Homo sapiens: one gene and its partners. The gene in region 7 interacts genetically with the main gene of each other region. Each region holds a gene or a part of one and is shown on either strand. Other genes may lie near its edges. The genes, in order: COPS5, EIF3H, SNRPD3, HUS1, RBM17, CARS1 and XRN2.

The links.
Region 1: changes in XRN2 (region 7) and COPS5 together harm fitness more than expected from each alone (negative genetic interaction), as found in Homo sapiens cells (one large-scale study listed by BioGRID).
Region 2: changes in XRN2 (region 7) and EIF3H together harm fitness less than expected from each alone (positive genetic interaction), as found in Homo sapiens cells (one large-scale study listed by BioGRID).
Region 3: changes in XRN2 (region 7) and SNRPD3 together harm fitness less than expected from each alone (positive genetic interaction), as found in Homo sapiens cells (one large-scale study listed by BioGRID).
Region 4: changes in XRN2 (region 7) and HUS1 together harm fitness less than expected from each alone (positive genetic interaction), as found in Homo sapiens cells (one large-scale study listed by BioGRID).
Region 5: changes in XRN2 (region 7) and RBM17 together harm fitness more than expected from each alone (negative genetic interaction), as found in Homo sapiens cells (one large-scale study listed by BioGRID).
Region 6: changes in XRN2 (region 7) and CARS1 together harm fitness more than expected from each alone (negative genetic interaction), as found in Homo sapiens cells (one large-scale study listed by BioGRID).

What each region holds. Positions count from the first base shown.
Region 1 is NC_000008.11:67,048,165-67,052,872, forward strand, and holds part of COPS5 (COP9 signalosome complex subunit 5), read right to left. Parts: intron 3,178-4,708; coding exon 3,066-3,177; intron 1-3,065. UniProt on the Homo sapiens protein: Probable protease subunit of the COP9 signalosome complex (CSN), a complex involved in various cellular and developmental processes.
Region 2 is NC_000008.11:116,727,952-116,732,659, forward strand, and holds part of EIF3H (eukaryotic translation initiation factor 3 subunit H), read right to left. Parts: intron 1-4,708.
Region 3 is NC_000022.11:24,565,495-24,570,202, reverse strand, and holds part of SNRPD3 (small nuclear ribonucleoprotein Sm D3), read right to left. Parts: intron 2,220-4,708; coding exon 2,027-2,219; intron 1-2,026. UniProt on the Homo sapiens protein: Plays a role in pre-mRNA splicing as a core component of the spliceosomal U1, U2, U4 and U5 small nuclear ribonucleoproteins (snRNPs), the building blocks of the spliceosome.
Region 4 is NC_000007.14:47,969,262-47,973,969, forward strand, and holds part of HUS1 (checkpoint protein HUS1), read right to left. Parts: intron 58-4,708; coding exon 1-57. UniProt on the Homo sapiens protein: Component of the 9-1-1 cell-cycle checkpoint response complex that plays a major role in DNA repair. The 9-1-1 complex is recruited to DNA lesion upon damage by the RAD17-replication factor C (RFC) clamp loader complex.
Region 5 is NC_000010.11:6,111,835-6,115,499, reverse strand, and holds part of RBM17 (splicing factor 45), read right to left. Parts: intron 3,291-3,665; coding exon 3,139-3,290; intron 1,993-3,138; coding exon 1,919-1,992; intron 1,452-1,918; coding exon 1,353-1,451; intron 262-1,352; coding exon 189-261; intron 48-188; coding exon 1-47. UniProt on the Homo sapiens protein: Splice factor that binds to the single-stranded 3'AG at the exon/intron border and promotes its utilization in the second catalytic step. Involved in the regulation of alternative splicing and the utilization of cryptic splice sites.
Region 6 is NC_000011.10:3,002,355-3,006,059, forward strand, and holds part of CARS1 (cysteine--tRNA ligase, cytoplasmic), read right to left. Parts: intron 3,080-3,705; coding exon 3,012-3,079; intron 247-3,011; coding exon 187-246; intron 1-186. UniProt on the Homo sapiens protein: Catalyzes the ATP-dependent ligation of cysteine to tRNA(Cys).
Region 7 is NC_000020.11:21,309,305-21,314,012, reverse strand, and holds part of XRN2 (5'-3' exoribonuclease 2), read right to left. Parts: intron 1-4,708. UniProt on the Homo sapiens protein: Possesses 5'->3' exoribonuclease activity. May promote the termination of transcription by RNA polymerase II.

The DNA of each region.
Region 1 (4,708 bases), on a different chromosome or scaffold from region 7:
AGGCCGAGGTGGGAAAATCACCTGAGTCCAGGAGGTCCAGGCTATAGTGAGATGTGATTGCACCACTGCACTTCAGCCTGGGCAACAGAGTGAGACCCTGTCTCAAAATAAAATAAAATAATAAAATAAATAAAGTAAAATAAAATAATAAAATAAAATATAAAATAAAATAAAAGGAAAAAAGGAAAAAAAGAACAGAAAGCTTGTCAGAGTTGTATTTAAAATAACAGTAAATACACTGCTTCACTTGACTAGCCTAAAAAAAATTCCAGCCGGGCGCGGTGGCTCACGCCTGTAATCCCAGCACTTTGGGAGGCTGAGGCGGGTGGATCACGAGGTCAGGAGTTCAAGACCAGCCTGGCCAAGATGGTGAAACCCCATCTCTACTAAAAATACAAAAAATTAGCCGGGCGTGGTGGCACGCACCTGTAATCCCAGCTACTCCGGAGGCTGAGGCAGATAACTGCTTAAACCTGGAGGGGTGGAGGTTGCAGTGAGCTGAGATTGCACCACTGCACTCCAGCCGGGGTGACAGAGTGAGACTCCATCTCAAAAAAAAAAAAAAAAAAAATTCCAGTAAATAATAGGCTTAAGTGAGGTCTTTTCCCATGAATATAATGCACCAAATTAAAAAAAATCATTAATTGAGGCTTTATTATATGCCAGACACTTTGCTAATTGCTTTATATAAAGTAGCCCATTTAATTTTCTCAGAGTACTTAATGATGTATGTAGCATATCAACATTTTACAACAAAGAAATGCTTAGTCACATTAAATAACTTTCTGAAAGTCATTCAGAACTAGTAAAGTGGCAGAGTTGTTTTCAAAGTCAGTTTTATTTTTTAGTATAGATATCATTTGTTTATTATAGAAGAGACATGGCAATTATTTACATAATTAAATATTTCAGAACTTAAGTGCAATGAGCAGCTTCATGTTGATGGCATTTCAATAGTGATTTACTTCAGTCTACATACTTTCTAAGAATGTCAGCATCTCTAAATAAGAAATAATCTGGCTGGGCATGGTGGCTCACGGCCTGTAATGGCACTTTGGGAGGCCAAGGCGGGCAGATTGCTCAAACCCAGGAGTTCAACGCCAGCTTGGGCAACGTGGCAAAACCCTGTCTCCACAAAAAGATACAAAAATTAGCCAGGTGTGGTGGCTCACCCTTGTAGTCCCAGCTACTTGGGAGGCTGAGGCAGAAGGATCGCTCAAGCCTGGGAAGTTGAGGCTGCAGTGAGCTGAGATCGTGCCACCACAATACCCTGGACAACAGAGACAGAGACCCTGTCTCGAAAAGAAAAAGAAAAAAAAAAAATCCTTGGCCTTCCAGGTCAACTGAATAAACCTGAAGAGTTGCAAAGTAGTTCTTTACTTTTGTGCCTCCATATTCTGGGAGAATAATTCTTTATCTCTAACTTTCACATTAACTGGTTGAATCCACCTTTTCCTTGAAAGCTCAATCCAACAACTACTGTTGCTTGCAATGCTTTACCTTGAGATTTTTCTGGAAGCGTAATGCCTCCTTTGGTTACAGTTTCAGCTGTACTCCTTTCAACCAATACTCCATCAAAGAGCATAAGAAACTTCTAAGTGCCGGTCCTGCTATGACTCCTGCTGCTGTAGCTCATATTCTCCAAACCCAGTTTATTTAATTCTAAATCCTGTGGTTCTAACCACTATATATACTGCAGTATATGAAATGGCCTACTTTTTTAGAAAAATAAAAAAATTGTTCCTAAGTTCTAAATATAGAGAAGTTTGTTAAATAATATCCTACCAAATATGTTAAGTTTTTATGATATTATCAGAAAAAATTCAGTGATACTCTCTTTTTTTTTTTTTTTTTGAGACGGAGTCTCACTCTTTCACCTAGGCTGGAGTGCAGTAGCGCGATCTCGGCTCACTGCAGGCTCTGCCCCCCGGGGCTCATGCCATTCTCCTGCCTCAGCCTCCCGCGCAGCTGGGACTACAGGCGCCCACCACCTCGCCCGGCTAATTTTTTGTATTTTTAGTAGAGACGGGGTTTCACCGTGTTAGCCAGGATGGTCTCGATCTCCTGACCTCATGATCCGCCCGCCTCGGCCTCCCAAAGTGCTGGGATTACAGGCGTAAGCCACCGCGCCCGGCCTCTTTTTTTTTCTCCTAGTATCTACTGCTTTAAAGTAATGCTCTTCTGATTCACTCTGGGAACCTCTCCTCCCCATTTTTAGTCCTTGAGCTCCTGAAGGAGTTTTCTACGCTGCGGCTCAGCAGTAAAGCACTTGCCGTGGCGCAAGCCGCTCATCAAGCTTATTCAGTTGGCCCACACCAGGCCTAAACATGGGCATGTGATTAAGTAAAGCCAGTCAGACACAATGAAGTTTTGCCCGGAAATATGTGAGTGTGAGTGTGTGTGTGTGTGTGTGTGTGTGTATCTTGACCTGGAAATATGTGAGTGTGAGAGTGTGTGTGTGTGTGTGTGTGTGTGTGTATCTTGACCTTCTTTTTGAACATGAAGCTGAGAGACTTGGAGGTCTAAAGCTAAAGCTGCCGTCTTGCTTTCACATGAAGCCTGAAACTAGCGTTAACTAAGATGAAATCAATGCTAAGAGAAAGAAAAAAAAAAAAAAGACCTCATAATATTGGTTGAATGCAAACTTAGCTGTGCCTGAGTTAAGCCCTATTCCTCAACTTTGCAACTTACACAATTCCCTTTCTTGTTTAAGCTCGTTTCATTAGGTATCCTGTTACTTGTAACCAGAGTCCAAGCTGAGACACTTGATACACAAAAATCAATATGTGTATTTTTTTAATCCATAAATCTCCTTATGGCAGGGGCAGATCTCACCCTGATCTGGACACTCTGTTTGCTACTTAGACTTGGTCTCTGTGGGTCATGACACAGATCCTGAATTGGCCTAGAATCCTAATCCAGCTGTGGTGGTGCAGAATCCCACCCTAGCCCTGGTGTCTTGGCCAAGTCAGGTATAGCCTTTCTGTGAAACAGTGTTTCAGATATTAAACGGCTATGAAGCTTAGATAAAATTCAAATGCATTCTTTACAAGTATAGTACTTACAGTAAGCAAGCTAGAAGAACTCAACGTATTCACCCAGTATTTATTCCACAACAGCTCAAGCAATTTGCGATCCAAAGAGGATTTGAAATATGAGACTTCTAAGGCATAATATCTATGAAATAAAAGCATAAAATTTAGTAAGTAAAAAAAAAAATTCAACTACGTCACATAAAACTTATGGCCAGATTTAAGTGAGTTACACTTTATTCTCAAATATTCACATTTTAGTCTTTATTCCAATAAGGCAATAGCTAACCATGGTTTCCTCACACTTCAAGGGTTGTGGATCCAAATCTCCTACTAAACTTCTTGTTTTATTCCTTTTTTTCTGTAGAGCCCAGAAATTCCCCAAATGTTATTAACAACCAGTCAAAACTTCTGAATGACAAGTTTATTCCTGTTACTGAGTTCATAAATTCAAGCCAACAGCACATAAACTTAATAAGCTGCCTCTCTAGGGTCAACTATAATTTTTGTTAGCCTCTTTAAAATAATAAAAATGACATGTGGATTCCATTCTTCCCTTCCTAATTCCCCAGTTAGGACCTACTGCTTTTTGAAAAGCAAATTTTAAGGTAGGTCCTTAAGGCATCTAAAATAATTGCTCCCACTTTCAAAGGTGCCTAATTTATCATCAGGGCATAGTAAGGAAAAATCTAGTTAAATGTCTGAAAAATACATATATTTTTAAGATGTAAACTTACATCTTAAACTTACACATGCTTCTGTGTATCAGTGGATATAAAAAAGCATGAGACATCTTTACCTTAAGGAACTCAACATTTATATGGGGGATGTGGTCTAAACCCACATCAAAATTAAATATAATGATATACATTGAATAACAATAAGTGATGCTACAGTGCTATATAAAATGAATCACCTACCAACTAAGGGTTAGAGATAATAAGTATTCTTCATATAGAGGAGCTCAAGCTAGAACTGCCTGAGAAGCCTCAGGGAAAAGGCAAGGTGTAGGGTAAACATTTTTGAGTCTATGGTATGGATATGTGGAGAGCAAGGAGGGCATTAGGCAGAGAGCATCAACACACAAAAAGGAAAGACATGTAAGAGATAATAAGGCAATGGGTTTAGCTGGAAAATTTAGCAAGAGAAGAATTATGTGAGGGGAAGCTAGAAAGCTATGCTGGGGTCTAGGTGGTGAAGGATGTTACACAAAAGGTTAAGAATTTTTTTTTTTTTTTTGAGACAGAGTCTTGCTTGGTCACCCAGGCTGGAGTGCAATGGCACAATCTCAGCTCACCACAACCTCTGCTTCCCGGGTTCAAGCGATTCTCCTGCCTCAGCCTCCCGAGTAGCTGGGACTACAGGCTCCCTCCACCATGCCCAGCTAATTTTTGTATTTTTGGTAGAGATGGGGTTTCACAATGTTGGTCAGGCTGGTCTTGAACTCCCAACCTCAGGTGATCTGCCCGCCTTGGCGTCCCAAAGTGCTGGGAGCCACAGTGCTCGGCCAAACTTTGGGAGACGGAGGCAGAAGAATCGCTTGAACCCGGGAGGCAGAGGTTGAAGTGAGCCGAGATCGCGCCACTGCACTCCAGCCTGGGCAACAAGAGCAAGACTCTGTCTTAAAAAAAAAAAAAAAAAGAAATTTAAACTTTATCCTGTAGATACCCGGGACT
Region 2 (4,708 bases), on a different chromosome or scaffold from region 7:
AACATGTGAAGATACTGGTACTTGATAGCCTCTTATGGAAAATTTGCTTCCCAATTTTAAGCTGGAAAGTCACTGAAATAACTTTTTAAAAATTACAACACATGGCTTTTTAGATTTTCAGTATATATGTTAAGAATTGTGTACAAATTGAAATGTCTGTGTACTGATCATCAACACGACCAATAAACCAATTATGAAAGAAAAAAAGAAACTAATGACCAGTTAATAACAGCACATTACATTTACTAAACATTGTATGACAGGCAATAATCTAATTATTTCACATGTATTACCCTATCATGTAATTCTCACAACCACCTTAGGAGAAAGGTACTGTTAATACTCATTTTATAGATAAGAAAACTGAGGCAGAGAGAAATTAAGTAAATGGCTAAAGGTCACACATCTAGGAAGTAGTAGAGCCAAGATTTAAACCTAGTTTAAACCTAGTTTTAGGTTTAAAAGTAGGTTTTTAAACCTAGTTTTTAAACCTGGGAGATGATTTTCATATTAGTAACTAAATTGATAGTTAAAATAACCAGGTAGTAATAGACAACAGATATGCAGTAAAAACTGTGTTATGAATAGACCCAAAAAGACTACACCAGTAAGATACAGAACTCCAAAGGAGAGCAAGCAGTCAGCAGGGAAAAGAGCTCAAAATGGAGTAACACCAACTAATAAGATTGGCAGACCTTCAATACTACGAAATGAAAGTGCACAACCTACACATTCCTGTATGAAAGACCTCTCCACTTCTTGAAAGGCACAAAAATGGACTTGATGAGTCATACAAGTATGGGTATGAGTTCCAGCTCCAGCATTTACTAGCTGTGACCTTGAGAAAGCTATTTAATCTTCTCAAGCCTTAGATTCTAATTTGCAAAATAGCACTATTTCATAGCATTACTGACACTACTAAAAATGACACAGTATAGAGTTCTCTGCACAGAGTCTGCCACATAGTAAGTGCTCAATAAATGACCAATATTGTTGATATTTGTCAATAACTATTTAATGCTTATTCAACATACCTCTCTGCCAAGAAAAATTATTTCTACACTTAAAAAATAGAACAAATACAGGTGATCAAGACGGGATAAACTAAACTGATAAAGAGTTATTACAAACACAACTACCAATTCACCTAGGTTACCTAGATTCCTTTATACTTACCCCTACTAATGAGATTGCTAAACCACTACTGAAATCAAAGTAAACAAGAGATATTAGAAGATATATGAGCTTAACATAGTTCTTCAGACAAATTCTAGAAGTGATTCCTAAACAGCTGATTCCTACATATGCAAAAGGGAATACTGGTGACTAGGACCAGCACAGTTTCATAAAGAAGCCAGATGAAAATAACCTCATTTCCAGTTATGAAGAAAATAGCAATAAAAAAATTAATATATTTTAAAACAAGTTATTACAGTTCAAACTATATTGAAAACTGTCTTAACTCTAACAAAAGTGAATTCTAAAGGGATCAGTAAGGATAATGTAACCAAACAGCACACCAGGCTTGACATGCTTGCCAAACAGCCAATGCAATTTTATGTAGTATCAATAGAATACAGCGCTCCAAGTAAAAGAAATAATTATCTCGCTCTTTCGACATCACTGAACTGTTATCCTCAGTTCTTTACAATGACCCAAGAGAAAATTTACCAGTAACAGTACCAAACTAAGAAATGAGAAAAGCACAAAAAACAATCAGTATGAGTAAGAATCCACAGAAAAGGGTAATTACAAGAGAGAAAGCTTAAAATCCTGTGATGAGAACCAGTAAAATTAATGCAAATCTCTCTCTAGGCAAGGGACACTCAAAAAAAGCACTTTCCAAATACTGAAGAGTTCTTTGGCTGCTTAGAGGATTAGTCTTACTTTGAAGGCAAAACCTAAGAACCACAGGTGACAGTTTCTGGAAAGAAGATTTCAACTCTAAGGATAAATTCTCTCTAGTACTGAAGGCTGTCCAAAAAAGAAAGCATTCAGGAAAGACTCAATCACTAAAATAATTTCCAACTTTAATATTTATGATCTTGTCATTTTAATATAATCTGATAAAGTACTCAGGAAAAAATCACTATTATCAAAACTAAGCTAGCTCATTCTTCATTGTGACATTTTATGATCGTCCTATTTCCTACATACACACTAAAACCTCAGTTCTTTAGTTCAAGAAGTAATGTCATGGAAATGCCTTACAGTAGGATTCATTTGGAGCAGGGGTTCCCAACCCCAAGGCCACGGACAGGTACTGCTCGGGAACTGCTCTGTGGCCTGATAGCAACCTGGCTGCACAGCAGGAGGTAAACTGCCTAAGCTCTGTCTCCTGTCAGGTGACCAGTGGCACTGATTCTCATAGGAGCACAAACCTTTACTGTGAACTGCACATACAAGGGAGCTAGGTTGCATGCTCCTTTGAAGAATCTAATGCCTGACAATCTGAAGTGGAACAGTGTCATCCAGAAACCATCCTCTCACATCCCCGCAACCCCCCACGTGGAAAAACTGTCTTTCACGAAACCAGTCCCTGGTGCCAGAAAGGTTGCAGACACTGATTTAAATGTTAAAAGGAAAGGAAATTCCTGATTAAATATAACTAAATGACATACATACTTCTGCTATTCTACATAGATAACCAAGAATTTGCCATGTATATATATTTCAAAGTTTCATAGATTCGAAGTATCTTTTAATAGAGACAGAATCCATGTTGTGCTCATTGTTTCCCCTCGTGAATGTTCCCATAAAAATGAAAGGATGATTTACTCACCACATCTTCAACACCTAACACAGATACTGGCACATAAAAGATACTCAAAATATATTTTGCTGAAGGAATGAATGGCAAACACTTATCACTTATGATATGTCAAGCACTCCACCGTCTTACGTGCAAGGACTCATTTAATCCTTACAACCACCCTGTGAAGTCAGTTATATTATTTTCCCATTTTACATAAGGAAACAAAGATAAGCTGACAGGGAATTTAGCCAGGGAAGTGAGATCTGACTTCTGAGTCCAAAGCACTTCTAATTACTTCACAATAAATGAGTGATACCAAACTGAGTGCACCAAATATGTTGATAACAGCAAGGCTGAAAAAGACACATGGAAAGCTTAACCATTCTTCAAAACAAAAACACTCTCCTGTTATATTTTGCTTATATGTATCACAAATGACCCCACATTTGTGATACATATACACTCAGGAGCCCTATTTACTCATTCCCAGCTGAGCAAAATCACCTAAAGAGCTTTTTTTAGATAAATGAAGAGGGGTCCTCATTCTGGATACACATTAGAGCCATCTGGGGAGCTTTAAAGTATACTAATGCGTGAGCACACTCCTGAAATTCAGCTAACTGATACCGGCTGGGTTCCTATACTGGGTTTGGTAGGTGGTGTCTGTTTTTAGTTCTCCAACTTACTCTAACATCCTATTTAGTTCTAATTTCTAATGAAGTTGTATGGCCTAGCTTTCCTTTGTTTTTGTTTTGTTGTAACTCCTCAGGTGACTACAATACACTGCTGGTCAAACCCCAATTTCCTTTCCTCTGTTTTAAGACTTCGTGGGTTGCTGAAAAGTGAAGGCACTGAGAAATACAGACCCAAAAGTGAACATGTTGTTTATAAAAGCATAAATATCACCCTAATAAGAGGAATTCAAGCCCTAGTTGGAACAATCTCTACAGCATATAAACAAGAGGGAAGGTAATACCAGCAACCCATCTTGAAACATTCATGTTTTCTGCAGCACAGTAAGACTTACACCTTAGCATCTGACCCCGTTATCTAAGACTGTTAAGAACCGATGCTGACTAGATTTGTTTACCCTATAAATTAGTGGGTAAATGAGGATTCTTCCATGAATTATGCCTCAAGGGACAGAAGCAAACTTGCCAGTAGAAACCCAACTTAGCAAATTCTTCTACACCTTCTGAAACTTTGTCATGTTCTGGGTGTAAATGCTTAAACTACTCTATGTGCCCTAAACAGTAAGTATTGTTCTCTGATTAGGTCAGTTGTCTCTCAAACTGTTTCCCAGATTTCTGAAGTTTACACAGTCTCAAGTTGGGCAGATCTTCAAGGAATCCCAACCTGCAAGATAGTAAACAGATGTCCTGTCTGCTGAAATTACCCTGCAGGGAACAGTTTTCTACTATTGTTCATTATTCAGTGCAAACTATTTGAAAAAGCAAAGCAGACTATACGCCATCTCTAATGAACACAATGCTACTTTTTAAAGTGTCTGGCTTTAAAAAAAAAAAATTAAAACCTATCTTTGCCCAAAAATCTAAAAGCAAGAACGGATTTAACTTCTATGACAAGTATTCTCTGTATTATAGGGTAAAATATAAATACCAATCTAAAATAGCCAAATAAATAACATTATAAGTCAATAAATCTAAAATTTAGAAGAGTTAAGGATGGCAGGTAAAATCTCTCATCCTTCCTAAAGGGAAAGATTTAACAGAATCTCTAAGACCTCCCTATCAAAATCATATCAAAGACTCAGTTCCATGACAGGGAACAGTTCAAATTTGACCAAAATAAATATTAAAGCTTTCTGATGAACTAGAATAATTTCCTATCAAACATAATGTCTGCATAGACCAGTAACTACAGAAAGATTTGAAATCTTTCTGCATAGAATCACTAGGCTTCTGTTATTTTGACTTCTTTCATTCCCTCATT
Region 3 (4,708 bases), on a different chromosome or scaffold from region 7:
GGGTCATAAGACCTCACTCCAGAGAAAGGTCCTGCCCTATACCCTGGAGGAACAAATGCTGCAGAGAGAGGCCAAAAAGAATCTGGACAGGCCTCGCGGGGTTTCCCAACCCCGTCTATTAGTGTTAGATCACACCCATTTTGTCTAATGGCATTTCCACATGGTTGTCCATCCTTTAATCATGACTATCCAATAAAGTCTCCATAAAAGGCCCAAGAGGGCAGGGTTAGGGGAGCTTCGGGACAGCTGATCATGCGCAGCCTGACAGGAAGGTGAACAAGAACTCATCCATGTGCCGGGAGGAAACTCCATGGGGCTAGAAGCTCTTGTGCTTGCGACCCTTCCAGATCTCACCCTATGCATCTCTTCATGTGGCTGTTTATTTGTAGCCTATAAAATATCCTGTTATAAACCAGTAAATTTAAGTATGTGATTCCCGAGTTGTGTGAGCTACTCCAGCAAATTAATCGAACCCAAGGAGTGAGACGTGAGAACCCTGGCTTGAAGCCATTCAGATGTTCTGGAGGCCTGTGCTTATGAATAATAGTGGGGGGTGCAGGGGCTGTCTTGTGGGACCGAGCCCTCAACCTGTGGTTTTTCAGGCTATCTCCAGGTAGATAGTGTCAGAACTGAAGGACACCCAGCTGGTGTCTACTGCAGAACTGACTGCTTGCTTGGTCACAGAAGTCTTTGTTGATTGTTGTGTTGTGAGAGCAGAGGAAAAACACAGTTTGACTTTTTTCCTCACACACATATAAAACATGTACAGCAGCTAAAGATACCAATGAAGAATCCAGTGCCTTCCTTGGCTGCAAACCTTTTTTACCAACACTAAGACAGTTTCCAAGGGCCACAATTACTTTGTTGTCTAATCAACATGACAGAACTTTCATGAACCTAAATATAAAACCAAATTAGGCTAACCAAGAAGCAAGACCAGACTAGGGGACTGCGAAAAGGACAGTCCCACTTTTGGAATGTACTAAAAGGTGGCTTTATTTCTGAAAACGGAGCTCCACTATCAGACCTCCCTAAGTACATGCTGGTGTCCATCCATAAGACCCAGTCTCGCTAGGAAATGCTGCCCTCACACTCGAGTCAGCTCATCTGCTCCGGGCTGTGTCTGCTCGGCAAACTAGACAAGGGCAAGCGATCCCACACCTCTCACACAGAACTTCTAGAAAAGATGGGCCTCTCCAGGTGCGGTGGCTCACACTGGTAATCCCAGCATTTCAGGGGGCCGAGGCAGGTGGATCATGTGAGGTCAGGACTTCAAGACCAGCCTGACCAACATGGTGAAATCCCATCTCTACTAAAAATACAAAAATAAATAAATAAAATAAAAATAAGCCGGGCGCAGTGGCTCACGCCTGTAATCCCAGCACTTTGGGAGGCTGAGGCAGGTGGATCACAAGGTCATGAGTTCAAGACCAGCCTAGCCAAGGTGGTGAAACCCCGTTTCTACTAAAAATACAAAAAGTAGCCCGGCGCAGTGGCGGGTGCCTGTAATCCCAGCTACTTAGGAGTCTGAGGCAGAGAACTGCTTGAACCCGGGAGGCGGAGGTTGCAGTGAGCCGAGATCACGCCACTGCACTCCAGCCTGGGCGACAGAGCGAGACTCCATCTCAAAAAAATAAAAAAATTAAAAAAAATTAAAAATAAAATAAAAATAAAAATAAATTAAAAATAAAAAAATTAGCTAGGCAGGGCAGTGCGCACTGTAATCTCAGCTACTTGAAAGGCTGAGGCAGGAGAATTGCTTGAACCTGGGAGGCAGAGGTTGCAGTGAGCTGAGATCACACCATCGCACTCCAGCCTGGGTGACAAAGCGAGACTCTGTCTCAAAAAAATAAAATAATGGCCTCACAGGATCACTCCACGCTGCAAGGGGAAGGGGTGGCAGTGGGTGGTGGGTGTGGAGAGAGCAGAGGTCAAACCCTCTCTGTCTCCAGGCAGTAATAGGGCCCCTTTCTACAAGACACAAGACAAACCTATATTTTAAAACCTGTGCATGAAAAGCACCTACCTTGGGCCTTGAGAATAGCAGCTTTTCCTCGGCCAGCCCCTGAGCCTTGGTTTTTATTTTTCATGCTCTTTAACATGGGTGCGTTCTTCAGCATGTCAGGCAAAATCAGAAAGCGGATTTTGCTGCCACGGATGTATACCTGCTCCAGCTGTGCCACTCGGCCATCTCTGTATGTGACTGTGATGTTGGACATCTGGAAGGAAATCACCAGCTAATAAGTTAACGGTCAACAGCACCAGCGGTGGGGAGGGCCTTGACTGGTGGGAGGGGGAAGTCCAGAAAAGCAGACTGACATTGTGACAAAGCTGGTGAATTACCCAGCAATCATCGGTACTAACTGTGTACACCAGGGACTGCACTGAGCACTTTACCTAAACAGTCCTCACAACACCTTCAGCGTGGGTATGAGTGCTCCCCCCCTTTTTTTTTTGAGATGGAGTTTCACTCTTGTTGCCCAGGCTGAAGTGCAATGGTGCAATCTCGGCTAACCGTGACCTCTGCCTCCCGGGTTCAAGCGATTCTCCTGCCTCAGCCTCCTGAGTAGCTGGGATTACAGGCATGCGCCACCATGCCCGGCTAATTTTGTATTTTTAGTAGAGGTGGGGTTTCACCAGGTTGGACAGGCTGGTCTCGAACTCCTGACCTCAGGTGATCTGCCCGCTTCAGCCTCCCAAAGTGTTGGGATTACAGGTGTGAGCCACTGCGCCCAGCCGAGTGCTCCCATCTTTACATGTTAAAAAAACCAAAGCAGTTATCCCAGGTCAAACAGCTGGAATGCAGGGAACTCCAGATTCGAACCAGCTGGCCTAGCTTCAGAGCCCTGGCTGTGCTGCACTGCCTGCTGAGCAAAGATGTGAAGAGCTCTTGAAGGTGCTAAACCCTAACGAAAACAGCTTCAAACTGCTGGTCCAAACTGTCTTCCCCTGCACTGCCTGGCACTCAGATTTCAAAGGCACCATGAAGGTCACAAGTATATACCAGATGTGGTTCTGACCCTCCAGAGTGCATACTCTAGAAGGTGAGACAGAACCCTCTAGGTTGAGTGACTAGGGACTGAGAAATGGAGGTGGTACCACAAGGCCTGTAAAAAGGGCCTGAAATTACTGGAGGGTTATGAGGCAAGAGCTTGCACAAGGAAAAGAGCAGGCACTTGGGCAGGAGCCTACAGGATGTGAGGACCAGAGCAGTCGAATAATGACACTGGACGGGGTCGTTACTTCAGATAAAGGAGTCAGTCAAGTTTGTCGATAGAGGAAAGATCAATAGGGTTAAGGCAGCACTCAGGAAAGATAAATGTGGCAACAAGGATAGACTGCAGGATGGACAAATGGGGAGCCTGAAGGTGAGACCAGCTTGGCATGGGAGGGTGATACCAATCTGCCAGCATCAACCTCAACAAGCACCACATTTACAGAAAAAGCAGCTTATTGTATGAACCTTCTGAAGAGAGAGAACTATAATTTATTTAGAATGGGTCAGCCCTTATTGTAGAAAGATGTGCTGTCTCTGCAGATTTCTGTCTGGCTAGCTGCCATCTTATACTCATTCATTCTTTTCCTCAAGTGCTAACTGGCCACCCAGCCTCTGCTTGAACACTCAGAAAAGAACAACTATGGGCCAGGTGTGGTGGCTCATGTCTGTAATATCAACACTTTGGGAGGTCAAGGTGGGAGGATCACTTGAGCCCAGGAGTTTGAGACCAGCCTGGGCAACACAGTGAGACCTCATCTCTACAAAAATTAGCTGGGTGTGGTGGCATGTGCCTGTAGTCCAGCTACTCGGGAAGCTGAGGTGAAAGGATCACTTGGTTCTGGGAGGTCGAGGCTGCAGGGAGCTGTGATGGAGCCACTGCACCCTAGCCTGGGCCACAGAGCAAGATCCTCTCAAAAATAAAACAAACAAAACTATGCTCTGGGGCCGCCCCTGTTGTATATGAGCAGTTTCTAGAGGAATGGTTTCTAGAGCTTCTACCCACTATCCCTGTTCTACCTTCAGGGGCAACAGGGCTCCAGTTTCTCATAAACCTTCTGCTCCAGGCTCCTCACTCCCAGCCTGTTATTAAATTTTCATCCAGTTCCCAAGTCCTTACCAATCCTTTTCTTCCCCTGAAGAATACCATAACCTCTAGTGCCACAAATGAACGCCAGGTTTATGGTCAGACTACCCAAGACAGAAACTGGATACAACTCAGGCTCACCTGAATCTGACTGACAATTAAAATGTGTTTTGGGGCTGGGCGCGGTGGCTCATGCCTGTAATCCCAGCACTTTGGGAGGCCGAGGTGGGTGGATCACCTGAGACCAGTCTGGCAAACACGGTGAAACCCTGGCTCTACTAAAAATACAAAAATTAGCCGGGTGTGGTGGCAGGTGCCTGTAGTCCCACCTACTCGGGAGGCTGAGGCAGGAGAATCACTTGAACCCGGGAGGTAGAGGTTGCAGTGAGCCAAAATCACGCCACTGTATTCCAGCCTGGGCAACAGAGCAAGACGCCGTCTCAAAAAACAAAAAACAAACCAAACAAACAAAAAACGTGTTTTGGGGACTGTGCCACACTCATGACTCTGTAGAAGACACAAAATAGGCCTAAAGACCTATAGGTGAGATCCAGCTCTGCCATTTGTCAGAAGTGTAACCCTAGGTATATCTCCAGGCTTCCCTGAGCCTCCGTTCCCTCAACTAC
Region 4 (4,708 bases), on a different chromosome or scaffold from region 7:
TACTAATTCAGTTTCTATTTTCAAATTCAATTCTCCATCTAGGTTTGCTTCAATAACCTGCAAATTGAGTATTTTACATAGTCTTAGAAAAGGAAGCCAAAAGGAAAAAAACTCCATGGGCAACAGCTTTCACACAACCAGATGACAAAGTACCCTACAAAACCTCAAAACACCTCAGAGCACACTGAGACCCCCGTGCTATCAGGGAAAGTGAGAAGATAAGGCCCAAGAGCCAAGAACTCAGAAATCTCCCAAAAATCTCAAAGGGGAAGTCCCCCTGCCTGCCTCCCGGAATGAAGAACTCAGTGAAGATGTGAAAACAGGTGGAACTCCGAGAGGACTTGCCAGGAGACTACAGCAGCACAAGGGCAGGGCTCTAGGGAGGGCTGGGTGGAGCTGATGAGAACTCCCTCACAGCAGGAGAGAGTCCTGCACTGAGAAGGAACCACGGGAAGTAAGAGCCTCAACTAAGCAGAATGGGCACCTTGGGCAAAAAAAAGGGAATGAAACTTTAAATGAAGGAAAAAGAGGGACAGATCTCAGAAAGTCCTGGGGATGTGGTGAGGATGCATGTTTTAATATTTTGTGGTTACAAAGAATAGAGAATTCTAGAGTCATTAAATTAGAAAACTATTTTGGTCCACTTTCACTCCTACAATGAAACTTCCTCCTAAAAGAACCAGAAAAACCAGCCGGGCGCGGTGGCTCTCGCTTGTAATCCCAGCACTTTGGGAGGCCGAGGCGGGCGGATCACGAGGTCAGGAGATCAAGACCATCCTGGCTAACACGGTGAAACCCCGTCTCTACTAAAAATACAAAAAATTAGCCGGGCGTGGTGGCGGGCGCCTGTAGTCCCAGCTACTCGGGAGGCTGAGGCAGGAGAATGGCATGAACCCGGGAGGCGGAACTTGCAGTGAGCCGAGATTGCGCCACTGCACTCCAGCCTGGGTGAAAGAGCGAGACTCTGTCTCAAAAAAAAAAAAAAAAAAAAAAGAGAAATGAACAATAATAGACGCTATGACACAACAACATAAATCAGAATTAGGGAAGCTCAGACATGAGATGACCAGAGAGCACGCACATAAAACACAGCTGACAGCACAGGAAGTAATTAGAAACATAAGGAAAAATTTCAGAAACAGAAACTAGTTTAGAAGGAAGACTAGAGCAAATAGGCACCACAGAGAGAATAGTAAGAGAAACTGGGATGGAAAGGAGAAAGATAAAATTTACCAAACAGAAACAAAGAGTTAAAAGGATCTGACAGAAAATAATAAAGACAGTGGAGAAGATCCAAGCCCTCTGAGTCCCAGAAGAAAAACAAAGCACTGGAAAAGAAATGCTATCAACTACAGCTCAAAACTTTCCTGAAGTGAATGAAGAGTTCGGCCCACATATTGAAAGGACACACCACACACCTGGGAAAACTGACCCCGGATGGTCAAGACAATTGGATTGAAAGAAAAATGGGAAAAATCCCCAGGGTATTTAGTCCCCACTTTCAAATGAATAAATCCAAGCTGTGAAACAAAATCAGAATGGAGTCATTCTTTTTGATAGCAATAATATACACCAGCAGACAATGCAGTGCAGTGAGCCAAACTGACATTATAAACACATGATAACCAATGAAATCCTATTCCTGTGAGTCCTTCTTGAGTGATATGCTAGAGAATAGGCTTTTAATAACCAAAAAAATCATTGGAGAAGTTACAGCATAAACAGTGTGAGCCTTATTTTGACCTTTAGAACCAAAACTAAACAACAGGAATGAAGAGGACAGAATAACGTGTAGTAATAAAATTTTATGCTCTGATGATGTAGACATAATATAACCATTACAAAACAGGAAGGGGGAAAATGAGAAGAATGTGGAAATCAGTGTCTTATTTTTATAAAATATAAATCAACCATTTGTCATAAACACACATTTAATATGACTATAAGGCCTTCAGAATCTCATGAGAACATAGCCATTTATTTAGAAAATAAACTCACATGTTGGAAAATGAAATGTCCAAATCCAGAAGGGTCTGGGGCTGCTGTTGGGTTACCAGGACTGAGGATGGCTGAGCCAAACTCCACACGCCCAGGCTACCAGACTTCTGCCATCCCCTCATATACCATCGGGCACCCCTCTTCTACTCCTGCTCTTGCTGCCCGGGGACTGTCTCCACAGGTCACAAGGGACTCCTTTCCTTTGAAGCTCCTCTACCCACCCCAACAACCAATCAGTTCTTTTAATTGGATGGAACCTAGAAGTGAAGCATATGCCACAGTATGGTTTGAGGTTTTGCTAACCTATCCTGGTCCACTCCCGCACCTACAATGAAATTTCCTCCTAAAAGAACCAGTACCTGTTATTTCTCTTTTTGATGTTGATATCTGCCCAATGTTAAAGCCTAGGAGGTCTCTGGAAAGCCAGTGTGTAGTCTGCTGGATAGCATTTTGCCATCTAGTACTAGAAAAGTGCCACCTAGCAACTGGTCTTATTTAGGGCCATTCCATCCTCACAGTGTCACAGAAAGAAAACAGAGAAGGCACTCTGTCTGCACGGCTCTGTATCAGTGTTCATGTTTACTGAATACAATTTAGTGTTCCTTGTTCTTATTCCTTAAAATTGGTGAACTCTGAATAGTTTTCATTCCAGAAACAAAGTTTTTCTAATTTGGGTGAGCTCTTATTTCTGAGCTTTTCACATTAATAGAAAAATAGTGCCCCAAACTTACCTGTTGTATAATCTACTTTGAATGAGAAATACTCATTTTCAACCCTTTTCTTTCATTAATCCAAAAAAATATATTGTTATATTTCCTAACCCGTTTTCCTACAATCTGGAACAATAGTTGACTGAAATAAAATATATAAAACAATCTTTGTGAATATGCTAGACTGCTTAGTGGGGCTAAGGCTAACACATGACCTTAGCTCATTTGTTCCAAACAACCACACACCCAAGATCTGTAAATTCCCATTGTTTTGAAAAGCAATGGTTTTAGATATAAATAAATAAATACTTATTTAAAAATGCAACTTGCAATGGGCCTAGATGCACTTCAGGCTTAAATGTTCTCTTGTGTTTTCTTCAAATTCCTAAGAATCTCAGTAACAGAACATTAGATTCCAACTCCCTCCTAACCATTAACACCTGGTGCCTAGCACATGGTGGCCTTAAGTCAATACTTACTGAAGAAACTAACAAACAACTAATTCTCTGAACACTGGTCACTCATGTCTATTTTAAGATTCAGTTATTTGGGATATTATACACAACAACACACTTGATTTCTTAAGTATCAGGGTAAGATCTTTCAATGATTTCCTTAAAATAGTCAACTATTGTTTATAGAATGCTGACTATACTGGGCACCTAGTAAAAATTATCTCTAAATTTTTAAAAACTGACGAAGCCCCTGTCATAGCTGCACTGTTATCCCCATTTGGGGTAGTATCCAGCACTAGGGTACTCACTGCACAGCGCAGCCTGGAGCTGAACCCAGGTATGTGGCTCCAATGACTCCCCTCTTCCATATCATGACTCCTAAACATAGACTCTGGTTTCTATCATTAGGTGACCCTGCAGAGCCGTTTCTCAGATAACATTTGAAGTACAATATAGTATGGCAATGATGTGGTTTGTTTTGGCTCAGCAACCCCACCCAAATCTCATCTCGAATTGTAATCCCCAAGTGCTGAGAAGGGGCCTGGTGGTAGGTGACTGGATCATGGGGGCAGCTTTTCCCATGCTGTTCTCTTGATAGTGAGGGAGTTCTCATGAGATCTGATGGTTTTAAAAATGGCAGTTTTTCCTGTGTTCTTCTCTCTCCAGCTGCCATGTTAAGACGTGCCTTGCTTCCCCTTTGCCTTCTGTCATGACTGTAAGTTTCCTGAGGCCTCCTCAGCTATACAGGACTGTGAGTCAATTAAACCTCTTTTGTTTATAAATTACCTGGTCTCAGGTAATATCTTTTTAGCAGCGTGAAAACGGAGTAATACAGGCACACATCACAAAGTACTGCTACATGATGTGGTCTGAAGACAGGCAGCATCGACATCTCCCAGGAGCTGGTCAGAAACAGAGCCTCAGGCTCCAGCTCAGACCTCCCAAATCAGAACCTGCACTTTAACCAGATTCCAGGGGATTCACACGCATGGTAGAACTTAGAAGCAATGTCTTAGAACATGATGTCAATTCCCTCCAGTTCTTGCTTCTTTTTCTGCTCCTGCATGAGTCACATACAACCCACCCCATCAGTCACACCTCGCATTTAATGAAAGGAAGTAACTGGGCATCTCTAATGGGAAGGTGGGCATTTTTAGTGTGTTAAGTCTACCCATTTTCCTTAATTCTACTGCCTGTAATATTCAGATACAGAATTCTGGATACCCAGGAAGACCTCATTATGTACTTTGCTACAGTAACTTGATAACTTTCCATTTAGTAATTCCAGATCGTAGTAGCCTCTCCACAATATTTCTATGTTTTTTTAAACTCCAAAAAAGAGAAAACAAAACACCTCTGATGATTCTAAGCTACCCTTCTACCTCTCTACCTTGCTGACTCATTTTCATTGAACAGAAAGAACAAACAAATGCCATCCTTCAATTAACAGCCCTGTCTTTTCTCTCCTGGGCCTCTCTGAATTTCTCTGGAAGTCCCCAGGGTATCCCCAGATGAAGCCAGCCTGACAACTGGATCAGCATCACT
Region 5 (3,665 bases), on a different chromosome or scaffold from region 7:
TTTTACCACCCGTCCACCAAAATACCTCCCATTCAAGTCAACAACCGCTGAAAGGCAAACAAAAGACAGTTAATACAGGTATCCTATAAGATAAAGGTTTAACTTTAATTAAACAGTAACTTTACTTGTAAAGATTAAGGCTGTAAATTCAACTTTTTTATTCTTTAATATTTAGCTGTACCACTAACCTTTAATTGCTGATTCAACTCTCTCAAATTCTAAAAATATCCGTACTGCTTCATCATCAGGGGCACCAGGAATCTGGAAGAAAATGAGAGCGTGATGAGTAAAGGCATTTGAGATTGCATTGAATGAGTTTTCTCTTTTAAATGATTTCTCAGAGTGGATATTCTAATTATCATCATATACAGTCAAGTAGTTGTCAAATACCAAGGAAATAAGTATAATTTGTTCATCATCAAAAACGTACTGAATGCCTGTTTTTATGACAGGCATTGTTAGGTGCCAGGAACACAGGGCTAGGCAGTCTCTGACCTCATAAAGGCCCTGTGCCAGCTGATGACGTAAACAAATAATTATGTGGTCAACAAACAGCAACAGGATAAAGAAACAGAGGAAGCAGAGCTTTCAGATTAAAAAGGCTGGTGCCCTAGTGGCCTTTCACATCAGGTCTCATTTTGACTAGCTCTGTCTAGCTTTCCTAGCCCTCTGTAATTCCACCCACCTAAGCACTTCTGCTAATCCCCAACAGGCCCATCCATTCCATTTTGGTAGTCCTGATCTTCACTGTCTCCTACGAGCCATTATCCCAATCAGAATACCCTTCCCTGCAAATCCCACCTGTTCGTTTCAAAGCGCAGCCCATATCTGCTATTGCTCACAAGGCAGTCTATTTTTTCACTGATCTAATCCTTTTCTCAACTCCTGAACTTAGTCAATACTACCTAGTCTAGTAACTGAATATCTTTCAGTTATTTTATGTGTTTCTTCAACTGAACACACCACTGAGAGTACAGAGCATGCTTCCTGTAATCCAAGTGCTCTCCGCACAGTGCAGTGCATGTGAGAGGCACTAAATACTCACCAAATGACTGAAACCAAAGGCATGTCTAAGGAACTAAACTACTGAGCACGCTAGAATCAAGGTCTTCAGTCATCATACTGATCCTCAATCATGAAGCATTCCTGTTTCTTCATCAAATAAAACTTGAAATCATTGTCTTTATGTTTAAAACTGTAATAATTGAGCAAGAGAAGTACAAATAACCAACGCCTGTCACCTTCTGCAGTAAGAATGTTACTTATAGCATACCCTGTCCTGTTTGTAGAAAATGTTTTGTAATGTGCCAATTACAACTTGTGTTATAAACATCAAAAGAAAACACTCTTACTTCAAATATCACACATTTTCCAACTTTGCCATATTTTTCACATTCTTCCTTGGTTTCAACTTCCAAGTCTTCATCCACCTCTCCCGCACCAACCATGTTCTTTAAACACAAAAATAAACAAATTCAAGTACCAAGTATAACTTACAAACACCTAGCAGAGGTATATAAATATGACTTAGTGATGGTAAATGTTCTCAATCCCAAACGACATAATGAAAAATTTCATCCCCAAAGTACCCAAAAGTTAGTATTTCTTAAAACACTAAAACATATATTAAGCCTGTAAAGAGTTACAAAAGCATCTATGCAAGCACCAAAATGTATAAACTATCTGAAGCTCTAGCAATTTCAAATATTTAATTACTCACTGCAGTCTTAAACACTGTACTTAGCAAAGAGACTTACACATTAGTGAAAAATCTAAAATCAGCCTTACGTGGGATCTGCCCAAAGTATTATTTGCAAAAGTATCATTTTCAGTTTTAACTTTTAGGGGGAGCAGGGTAGGCTGGGGTGACACACACAAATCTAGGCAGGCAGAGAGCTTGCTTTCCTCAGCTTCTTACCCTTAGTAAGACCACTTTAGTAGGACACTTAAGTATTTCAGTCAGCGGATTTGAATCTGACTTCTTGGATGCATCTGTATCAAAACATACCATTAGATGTGTTACAGAACTGAGCAGCATATCATTAGATGTGTTACAGAACTGAGTCCTACTTACAATAATTAATTTAATTTCAATAGCGATCCCCACCATTTATGTCCTAGGCATCTACACAATTGGTCTCTGAGCGAAAACACAGCCTTATCTGCAATAAAAGCCTCTGCTTTGCTTTGGCATGTTTTTACAATAGCATCTGGATGTTTTGAGCCTCCACCATTACTTGCAATTTTTGCTCATCTCACTTCCCAAAGGGCTGACAGGGCATGTGAGTGATAATTCCTATAGGTGAGTTGACTTGGAGCAAACGTTCAAGGTCACGGGCCCAGGGGAATATGCAGTTACTAATCCAGCCACCGGCTGCCTTACTTCAGATAACCTCACAAGTCGGGACAACTGTTGGTTTCTGGCACTCACCTGTCAGGCTCGTGATGTATCCTAAGCTGTGCATGAACGGGGCTGCCAGAAAAGTTTTCTTCTTTCTTTAGCAAAGGAAGTTCAGCTAGGCTGACTCAAACTTAATTCCCTGATTAAAATGCTAACATATGTTTGTCTCTTTCCTGAATTCCCTCAACACAGAACAGACTGTAAAAATTAAATGAAAATAAAACACCAACTAGGCATCATTTACCAAGAGACTGCAACATAACATCAGATCTCGCAAAGCAAACAATCTGTAAGAGAATCAGAAATCACATCTATACTGAAAGGGCAAAAGGGAAAAGTAGAGACGACCTCTGAGATGGAGATAGCAGGTATATTCACTGCCACACTATATGGCTCTGTCCTTCATGCTCTAAACACATAACCAAGATTTCTTCCTGAGGACTACTCATTTTCTGCCCAAGTCTCTCACCATCTTTTCCTCCACAAGCCTTCATCTCTCTACGTCTGTTCTGAAAAAATAAAGATGAGCCTCAGGATTCCTGGTTTCACAAAACGGAAGTGGCAGTGCATCATATGAACAGGACGGCCTGTGTTCTAGTGATGGCAGGGCCAGCCCTCTCCCTCTGGCCACACGCCTCATTGTCCCCCTGCTGACACATGAGGATCAAGACTGGCCATGTCTGATATGGATGGGGCCAGTCCTTTCCCTCTAGTCACACGCTTCCCTGGGGACACACCTTTCTCTGTGGCGTCGCCCACGATGATCTTGCCGCCACGCTTGCTGGTCTTCTCCACTGACAAGGCAGTGCTCAGGCCCTGCTCATGCTTCCCCAGACCCTGGCCCTCCCGGAAGCCGTACTTCTGCATGATCTTGTGCGCCACCGTGCCCCTGGCAGGAGAAGAAGGGAAAGGACTCTTAGCCTTGACATCGTCAACTGGAGATAGGTTGCATTTTTCCATCACAACAACCTCCTTCTGGAGAGAGTGCATGCTCCACAGGGGCTTCAACAAAGTCACTCATTAACTAGGAGTGGGCTATTAGATGGAAGCTGTGGGGATGTGCAGCATGAAAGAAATAGAAAAAGCTATGAATAAAATCCAGAACATCCTGTTGTCTTGGAGGGGAAATGTCAGTTTCTCTGGTGGAGTCTCCTCAGTGCCCTGCTAGGAAACACAAGACCTTTTGTGTGCTCCGGACCTGCACTGCCACATAGCTTATGACCACAGTTTATTAAAAAGTGGCTATCAAAAAGTAAGTATGAAG
Region 6 (3,705 bases), on a different chromosome or scaffold from region 7:
CTTCCCTGCACCCCATGTGAGAAGGGCCTGGCAGGCCTTGGGTGGTGGAGGCAGAAAGCGGAGCTCCTTCTGTGAGGGTCTGCAGGGGCCTGGCTAAGGTCCACGGAGGCACAGAGAGCCACAGGGCATGGGGTCAGGGTGCACTCCTGCCCAGTAGAGCCCTCACCCCCAAACAAAATGCATTACTTCTTGTTCCTGTTTCCTCCGGGCCGCCTCCTCTTTCTTCTTCCTCTTCTCCTCTTCAACCTGGAGGGTCAATACAGAGCCAGATGAGACAGGGCTGCCTCAGGCTGCTGGGTCTCTCGGAGTGAGAGGTCTAGCCAAACAAGCCCCTCTCCTAGGGCCTGGCATGGAGGGCTGAACTCTGACCAGGCCCTCCCCACTGTGGGGAGACAAGCCCATGTGCCGGGCAGCACACCGACCCTCTTCCATTCCCTTTGGGGATCCTCAGCGGCACCCCTGGGTGCCTGGCCCTGCCCTAGATGCAAAGGTATGCAGCAGGCAGACAAACAGAACCAATGCTAAAAGATCCAGGCACCACTAACATGAAGAAATGGACCAGCATGGTGAGCCTGGCCCAAGGAGAGAGGATCTGTAAGGCAATGACCAGGACAGCACTGTGAGGGTTATCCTGAGTGGGTCTTGGGGTACCTGGGAAGGAGCAAGAGCGCCAGGGCAGGATGGGGATGGTGGGCGGAGGGCAGCCTTGGGGGCTAGGTGAGGAGACCAGAGCCCACTCCAACCAGCAGGCAGCACCCGGGCAGGGGCGAGGACAGTCTGATGCTGCAGGGAGAGCTTATTAGTGGAGCCAGCAGGCTGGGTGCCGGTGAGGGAAGCCCTCGGTTGCTTTGGGAGGTTCTGGCCTGAGCCATTGCACGAACAGACATGCCCTCCACTGACGGAAAAGGAGCAAGTTTGGGGAGTTGAAAATCACATTTTCACCTTTCCTTTGGACAGCCTAGGTTTCAGATGCTTCCCAGCCCAGTGGAGCTATCAGGTAGGCACGCCCTCCATGGCAGGAAGGAGGAACAAGTTTGGGGAGTTGAAAATCACATTTACTTTGGACAGCCTAGATATCAGAGGCTTCCTGGCCCAGTGGAGCTATCAGGTAGGCAGCTGGGCAAACTGTTTTTGGGCCACCGGCTACAAGATAGATGGTGGAGAAGCCGCAGGACCAGATAAGGTCTCCTGGGGAGGCGCCACACACAGAGCTAGGGAAAAGAAACCAGGAAGGCACAAAGGTCTCAGAGACTCAGGATGGGGCTGGGGCCAACAGGATCGAGCTCTTTCGAGATAGATGGAGGGAGAGCAGGGCTGGCCGAGGGAAAGGGGCTGAGGTGGGGGAGGAGCTGGGCACTGAGCTTGGAGGAACCAGAGACACAGTGCTCAGGATTTCTGCTTTTTCCCTTTAAAAGTTAGTATGTGTTTATGTGCTGGTGGGAATGGTACAGGGAGAGGCAGGACCCCTCCCCCATGGTGCCTCGGGCCTGGGGATGCCTTCTTGCAGCAGCTTGGTGAGGTAAGAGTCCCTTGGTTGGGAAACAGGAGCTACTAGAAGTCACAGGCCACAGCCAAGGTGGCCAGTGGAAAGGCCAGCACAAAGAGTGCAAGGCCTGTGAGGCTCTGGCCGGGCCACCCTGGCGCTCCTCTTGTCTGTTTCCTGCTTCTGAGCACTCTGCCAGGGAGTGCAGCAAGCCAGGGCGTCTGCACAGCCAGCACCAGGCCACCTCACAGCACAGCACGGCAGGCGAGACCCAAGGCTAGGTGAGTGACTGTGATGGAATGGGGAGGGGCCCTGATGAGGCAGTCACACCAGCCAACCTCACAGGGCAAGCCCAGCTCTTCCCAACCTGCCAACCAGGATGGACCTGCAGACCACTCACCACTGTCTAGAGCTTTCCCCAGAGTTCCAGTTCGTTATTCCTCCAAAGCACTGCAAACTCCAGCCACCCACACTTGGATCTGGCATGAGCTCTCCCCTCGTGCCTTGGGCCAGTGCAGGGCTAGGCATAGATGCCTTCCCTGACCTTGTACATCCCATCTATCAATCAACCACCCTGTCGATTCTCCTTCCTCAGTTCCTCCCAGAGCCTCCTTCCTGAGAGCTGTGGCATCCAAACTCGCCCTCCACGGTGGTCTCCTGCTTTAAGCCTCTTGGGGACCCACCTGCTGGTGGCAACAGCCCCCATGGCCCACCTCCCATGGTGTGCACTGGGGGCCCAGGTGCCTCTCATCCTGCTGCCTGCATCCCAGGGTACCCCATGCGCTGTGCCCAGAGATTCTGACATTGCGTTTTTGTTCCTGTTCTTCTGTCCTATTGGGCACCGAGGAACTTGGGCCATCCCTGATCCTGGGGGCGTTGTGGGGTGCAGGTGGGGAGTATGCTGGGAATAGGAGGTGGAGATGCATCAGTGACACGCGCCACTCAGGTGAGGGCACGGTGGGACTGGGATCTTAACATGTCAGCTTCGGGCCAGGCGTGGTGGCTCAAGCCTGTAATCCCAGCACTTTGGGAGGCCAAGGTGGGTGGATCACGAGGTCAGGAGATTGAGACCAGCCTGACCAACATGGTGAAACCCCATCTCTACTAAAAAAATACAAAAATTAGCTGGGCACAGTGGTGCGTGCCTGTAGTCCCAGCTACTTGGGAGGCTGAGGCAGGAGAATCCCTTGAACCAGGGAAGTGGAGGTTGCAGTGAGCCAAGATCGTGCCACTGCACTCCAGTCTGAGCAACAGAGTGAGACTCCGTCTCAAAAAAAAAAAAAAAAAAAAAAGTCAGCTTCACAGTTTGCCAAAAGTGACTGGTTTTCACTTAAACTGAGGGAATAATCTTTTTAAAAGAGGTCCTTCATTAGAAGATACTAGTTAATTTTTCTTTCTGACATTTATAAATACTGGGATTTTAATAAAAGTGTAAACATCAATGCTTAAAAAGTAAACTATGTAATAATCGCAATGGTTTTTACATTTTCAACAAATATCACGCTTAAGTCATTTTCACTTTACTCACCCGTCTCTTTTCTTCTCTCTCTTTTAATAAGGTGTTTCTGTCTACCAGTTTCACCACTGTGGGCAGTCCTGCAAAATAAACTGCGTGTGAGAAGAGTCTGGGCTCTGTGGGCCGTCCCCACTGCGGGGCCAGCCCTGCCCTGCCCTGCCCTGCCCAGACCATGCGGTGCTGCCCAGTCAGAGCGAGGGCCCACAGGAGAAAAACAAACAAAAACCTCCATAGCAGCAGTGAAGCACAGGAGAACATTTTGGTTTGTGTGTGTGTGATTTTTTTTTTTTTTTTTTTGAGACAGAGTCTTGCTCTGTCATCCAGGCTGGAGTGCAGTGGCACGATCTCAGTTCACTGCAACCTTTGCCTATCGGGTTCAAGCAATTCTCGTGTCTCAGCTGCCCAAGGAGCCCACACCCAGCTAATGTTTTGTATTTTAGTGGAGACGGGGTTTCACCATGTTGCCTAGGCTGGTCTCGAACTCCTGAGCTCAGGTAATCCACCCACCTCAGCCTCCCAAAGTGCTAGGATACAGGTATGAGCCACCACACCTGGCGAGAACATTTTGTAACGAGAAGGTAGGAAGGTCTTGCCAGCCAGGAGTAGGAAAATAGGACATGACATCTGAGATTTAAAATTACCAGGGGCAGAGTGGAAGAGTGGAATTGGAGGGTTCGTAACACAAAGAAATGATAAATGCTTGAGG
Region 7 (4,708 bases):
GATGGATGCACACATTTGTGAAAATACTAAAAATCACTGAGTTGTACACTTTAAATGGGTGAATTTTATTGTATGCAAATCATATCTCAACAAAGCTGTTTAAAGAATGTGGTAACCAGCTCCAAAGAAATAATCATATTAGAGAAAATAGAATGTAGGGTCAAGGATAAATGTCCACCTTATGATTTTTCTCCCTTCCCTCAGAGTGATGCCTATCACAAAAGTAGTACTCAATGAAATGGAAGAGAGAAAAGAGGCAGTGGAGGAAACCTGGATTTCATTACATGAGAACAGTAAGACCACACTGTACACTACAACGCAGTATTACCAAGAGTTAGACTCAAAAACATCTCTGCCTTTACTTGGACACATAAACTACTAAACATTAATTTACCAAATAAAATTCTGAAATCAGATTTTCCAAATAGTTGCCATTTAGCAAATGCTTCTGTAACAGGATTGTAACTGGTATTAATACATCTAATCCACACAACCACCCTCTGTGATACATACATAGCCAATCTTCATTATTCATGAATCCCATATTTGCAAATATGTCTACTCACTGAAATTTATTTTTAACCCCAAAATTAATAATCATGGTACTTTCGCAGTCATTTGTGGACATGCACAGAGCAGCGAAAAATTGAGTCACCCAACATACACATTCCCAGCTGGCAACAAATGAGGACACGCAGCCTTCTGCTTTCAGCCCTTGCACAGAGATGACCAGAGGGGGAAACTGTAGGGAGCAGCACAGTGTAGCGTAGTGTGTTAACTTACACCAAATTTGGCCTGAGGATGGCTCCTTACTGATTCTTCACTTGAAGAACTGCAATATTACTTACATAAAGTCCACTAAGGAAAAGCCTAACTTAGGAGCATACTTCTGTAACAAAAAGCAGAGTCTCCGCCAATCGCAGCAGTCGAGCTTCAGTCAATCACAGGTTGCCAACTTATCTGGCCATGTTTAAATAAGCCAAAAGATTAAGCTGTTTCTGTACCTCACTTCTGTTTTCAAGAGCTCCCCAAACCTCTTCTGGTTCTGAGGGCCACTCAACTGGCAAACTGTTCATTGCTCAATTGAACTGTGTTATTTAATTTATCTAGGGCCCAGGCATGGTGGCTCACGCCTCTAATCCCAGCACTTTGGGAGGCTGAGGCAGGCGGATCGCCTGAGGTCAGGAGTTCAAGACCAGCTTAGCCAACGTGGTGAAACCTCTACTAAAAATACAAAAATTAGCCAGGCGTCATGGTGCACACTGGTTGTCCCAGTTATTTGGGAGGCTGAGGAAGAATGGCTTGAACCCAGGAGGCAGAGGTTGCAGTGAGCAGAGATTGCACCACTGCACTCCAGCCTGGGCAACAGAGCAAGACTCTGTCTTCAAAAAAAAAAAAAAAAAAAAAAAATCTTGGGGTTTGGTTTTAACAAGAAGCTCTGGCTCTCTAGAGTTTAGGCATTTAAGTCATTTTCCGATGGTCAGAAAGCTGATAAATGGAGGACTGCATGAGCCAAGCAGTTAAAGTATATGAAGTGAAGAAGCTGATGACTGAATCAGTAAAGAGTTCTTAATAAGTGAGCAAAGGGAATAAAATGAAATCATAAAAACACAACCTAAGGCCGGGCACGGTGGCTCACACCTGTAATTCCAGGAAGTCAGGAGATAGAGACCATCCTGGCTAACACGGTGAAACCCTGTCTCTACTAAAAAAAAATAAATAAATACAAAAACTTAGCTGGGCATGGTGGCAGGCGCCTGTAGTCCCAGCTACTCGGGAGGCTGAGGCAGGAGAATGGCGTGAGCCTGGGAGGCAGAGCTTGCAGTGAGCTGAGATCGCGCCACTGCACTCCAGCCTGGGCAACACAGTGAAACTCCTCTCAAAAAGACAAAAAAAAACACAACCTAAAAGAAGGCATAAGACTTAAGAAACTGAAACAATGAACAGATGAGACAGAAAACAAATAGTAAGATGACAGATTTAAATCTAACCATATCAATAATCTTTTTTTGTCTTTTGAGACAGAGGCTCGCTCTGTCGCCCAGGCTGGAGTGCAGTGGAACAATCTCAGCTCACTACAATCTCAGTATCCCAGGATCAAGTGATTTTGTGCCTCAGCCTCCTGAGTAGCTGGGTTTATAGGTGTTGTACCACTATGCCCAGCTAATTTTTTTTTGTTACTTTTTTAGTAGAGACGAGGTTTCACCATGTTGTCCAGGCTGCTCTCGAACTCCTGGCCTCAAATGATCCATCTTCCTTGGCCTCCCAAAGTGCTGGGATTGCAGGCGTGAGCCAACATGCCTGGCCATCAATAATCATTTTAAATATAAATGTTCTAAATGGCCCAATTACAAAGCAGACTAGAAAAACAGTTTGGTGGTTCCTCAAAATGCTAAACACAGAATTACATGATCCAATGATTCCACTCACAGGTACATACTCAAAAGAACTGAAAGCAGGGACTAAAAAAGATACTTGTACACCAATGTGCATAGCAGTGTTATTCATAATAGACTAAAGGTAGAACCAGCCAAAGTGTCCAGAGTGTGACATATACTCCCATATACAATGGGAGTATCATTCAGCTTTAAAAAGGAATGAAATTCTGAGACATGCAACAACATGGACAAACCTTGAAAACACTATGTTAAGAGAAATAAGCCAGACACAAAAGGAAAAATATTATGATTTCATTTACATAAGGTAACTAGAATAGGCAAATTTATAAAGATAGAAAGTGGGGAGGGGGACAAGGAGTTACTGTTTAACAGGTAGCGTTTCTGTTTGGGATGATAAAATTGTTCTGGAAATAGACATTGGTGACAGTTGCACAACAATTTGAACATACTTGGTTCCATTGAATTGTACACTTTAAAACAGTCAAAATGGTAATTTTATGTATGTTTTATCCCAATAAAAAGAGGGGGCAGAGATTCTCAAACTGTATAAAAAAGCCAGACCCGGACAGGCGCAGTGGCTCACGCCTGTAATCCCAGCACTCTGGGAGGCAGAGGCGGGCAGATCACGAGGTCAGGAGATCAAGACCATCCTGGCTAACACAGTGAATGAAACCCCATCTCTACTAAAAAAAAACAAAAAAATTTGCCGGGCGTGGTGGCGGGCGCCTGTAGTCCCAGCTACTCGGAAGGCTGAGACAGGAGAATGGCATGAAACCGGGTGGCGGAGCTTGCAGTGAGCCGAGATCGCGCCACTACACTCCAGCCTGGGCGACACAGCAAGACTCCATCTCAAAAAAAATAAAAAATAAAAAATAAAAATAAAAAAAAGCCAGACCCAATTGTTATGTTACCTACAAAAACGTCCACTTTAAACATAAAGATGCAAACAGGCTAAAATAAAAGAATAGAAAAAAACACACCATGCTGACACTAGTCAGAATAACTGGCTGTATTAATGACAAATAAAATAGATTTCTGAGCAAATATTAACCAAGAATAATGAAGGTCATTTCATAATAAGTGTATTATCCACCAAAAAACTAGAACAATGTTAAGCATTTATGCACCTAATAAAAGAGCTTCAAAATACACAACCAAAAACCAATAGAACTGAAAGGAGAAACAGAAAAATCCAAAAGTTATAGTCAAAATTTCACAGCAGCAGAAAATGTATCCTTTTCAAATACACATAAAACATTTATAGAGACCATATTCTGAACCAGTCTGATAAACTTCAACAGACCTCAAATTAAATATGATCTCTGATAAGGGAATTAAATTAAAAATCACGAACAGGAAAAAATACCTGGAAAATCTCCCATGTGTGTGAAAATTAAGTCACACTCTTAAATAACCAGCGGGCCAAAGGGAGTTTTAGAACATATTTTTAAGTGGATGAAAATGAAAATACAACATGTTAATATTTGTGGCACACTGTTTAAACAATATCTAGAAGGCAATTTATGGCACTCAAGATCTATATCAGAGAGGAAGAAATGTCTCAAAACAATGACCTCAGCTTCTACCTTAATAAACAAGGAAGAGAAAAAACAAGTTAAACCCAAAGTAAGCATAACAAATACATATAAGAGCAGAATCAAAGAAATAGAAAACAGAAAAACAATAAAGAAAATCAATGAAACCAAAAGCTAGTTATCTGAGAACAGTGTAGCCAGACTGATAATGGGACAAAACAAAGAAAGTAGAATTACAAGTATCAGGAATGAAAGAGGTAACATCACTACAGATTCTAACAATATTAAAAGGATAATAACAAGTTAACAGGAAGAAAAAAGAAAACAAAAGAGAAGTAAAAACAGGAGTGAAAACATTTTAATAACAAAAAAAAAAGGATAGTAAGAAAATACTATGAACAACTTTATGTCAGCCAATTCAACTACTTAGATCAGGGGTGTCCAATCTTTTGGCTTCCCTGGGCCACTTTGGAAGAAGAATTGTCTTGGGCCACTAATACTAACGACAGCTGATGAGCTGAAAAAAAAAGAAAAGGTCTGTGCATAAATCTCATGATGTTTTAAGAAAGTTTACGAATTTGTGCTGGGCCGCATTCAAAGCATCCTGGGTTGCATGCAGCTTGCAGGCCACAGGTTGGACAAGCTTGACTTAGATGAAATGGGCAAAATCTGTGAAAGATACAAACTAAAAAAGCTCATCCAAAAAATAAATAAATAAATAAATAGGTAACCTCAATAGTTCTAGATCAACTAAAGAAACTTAATTTGCAGCTT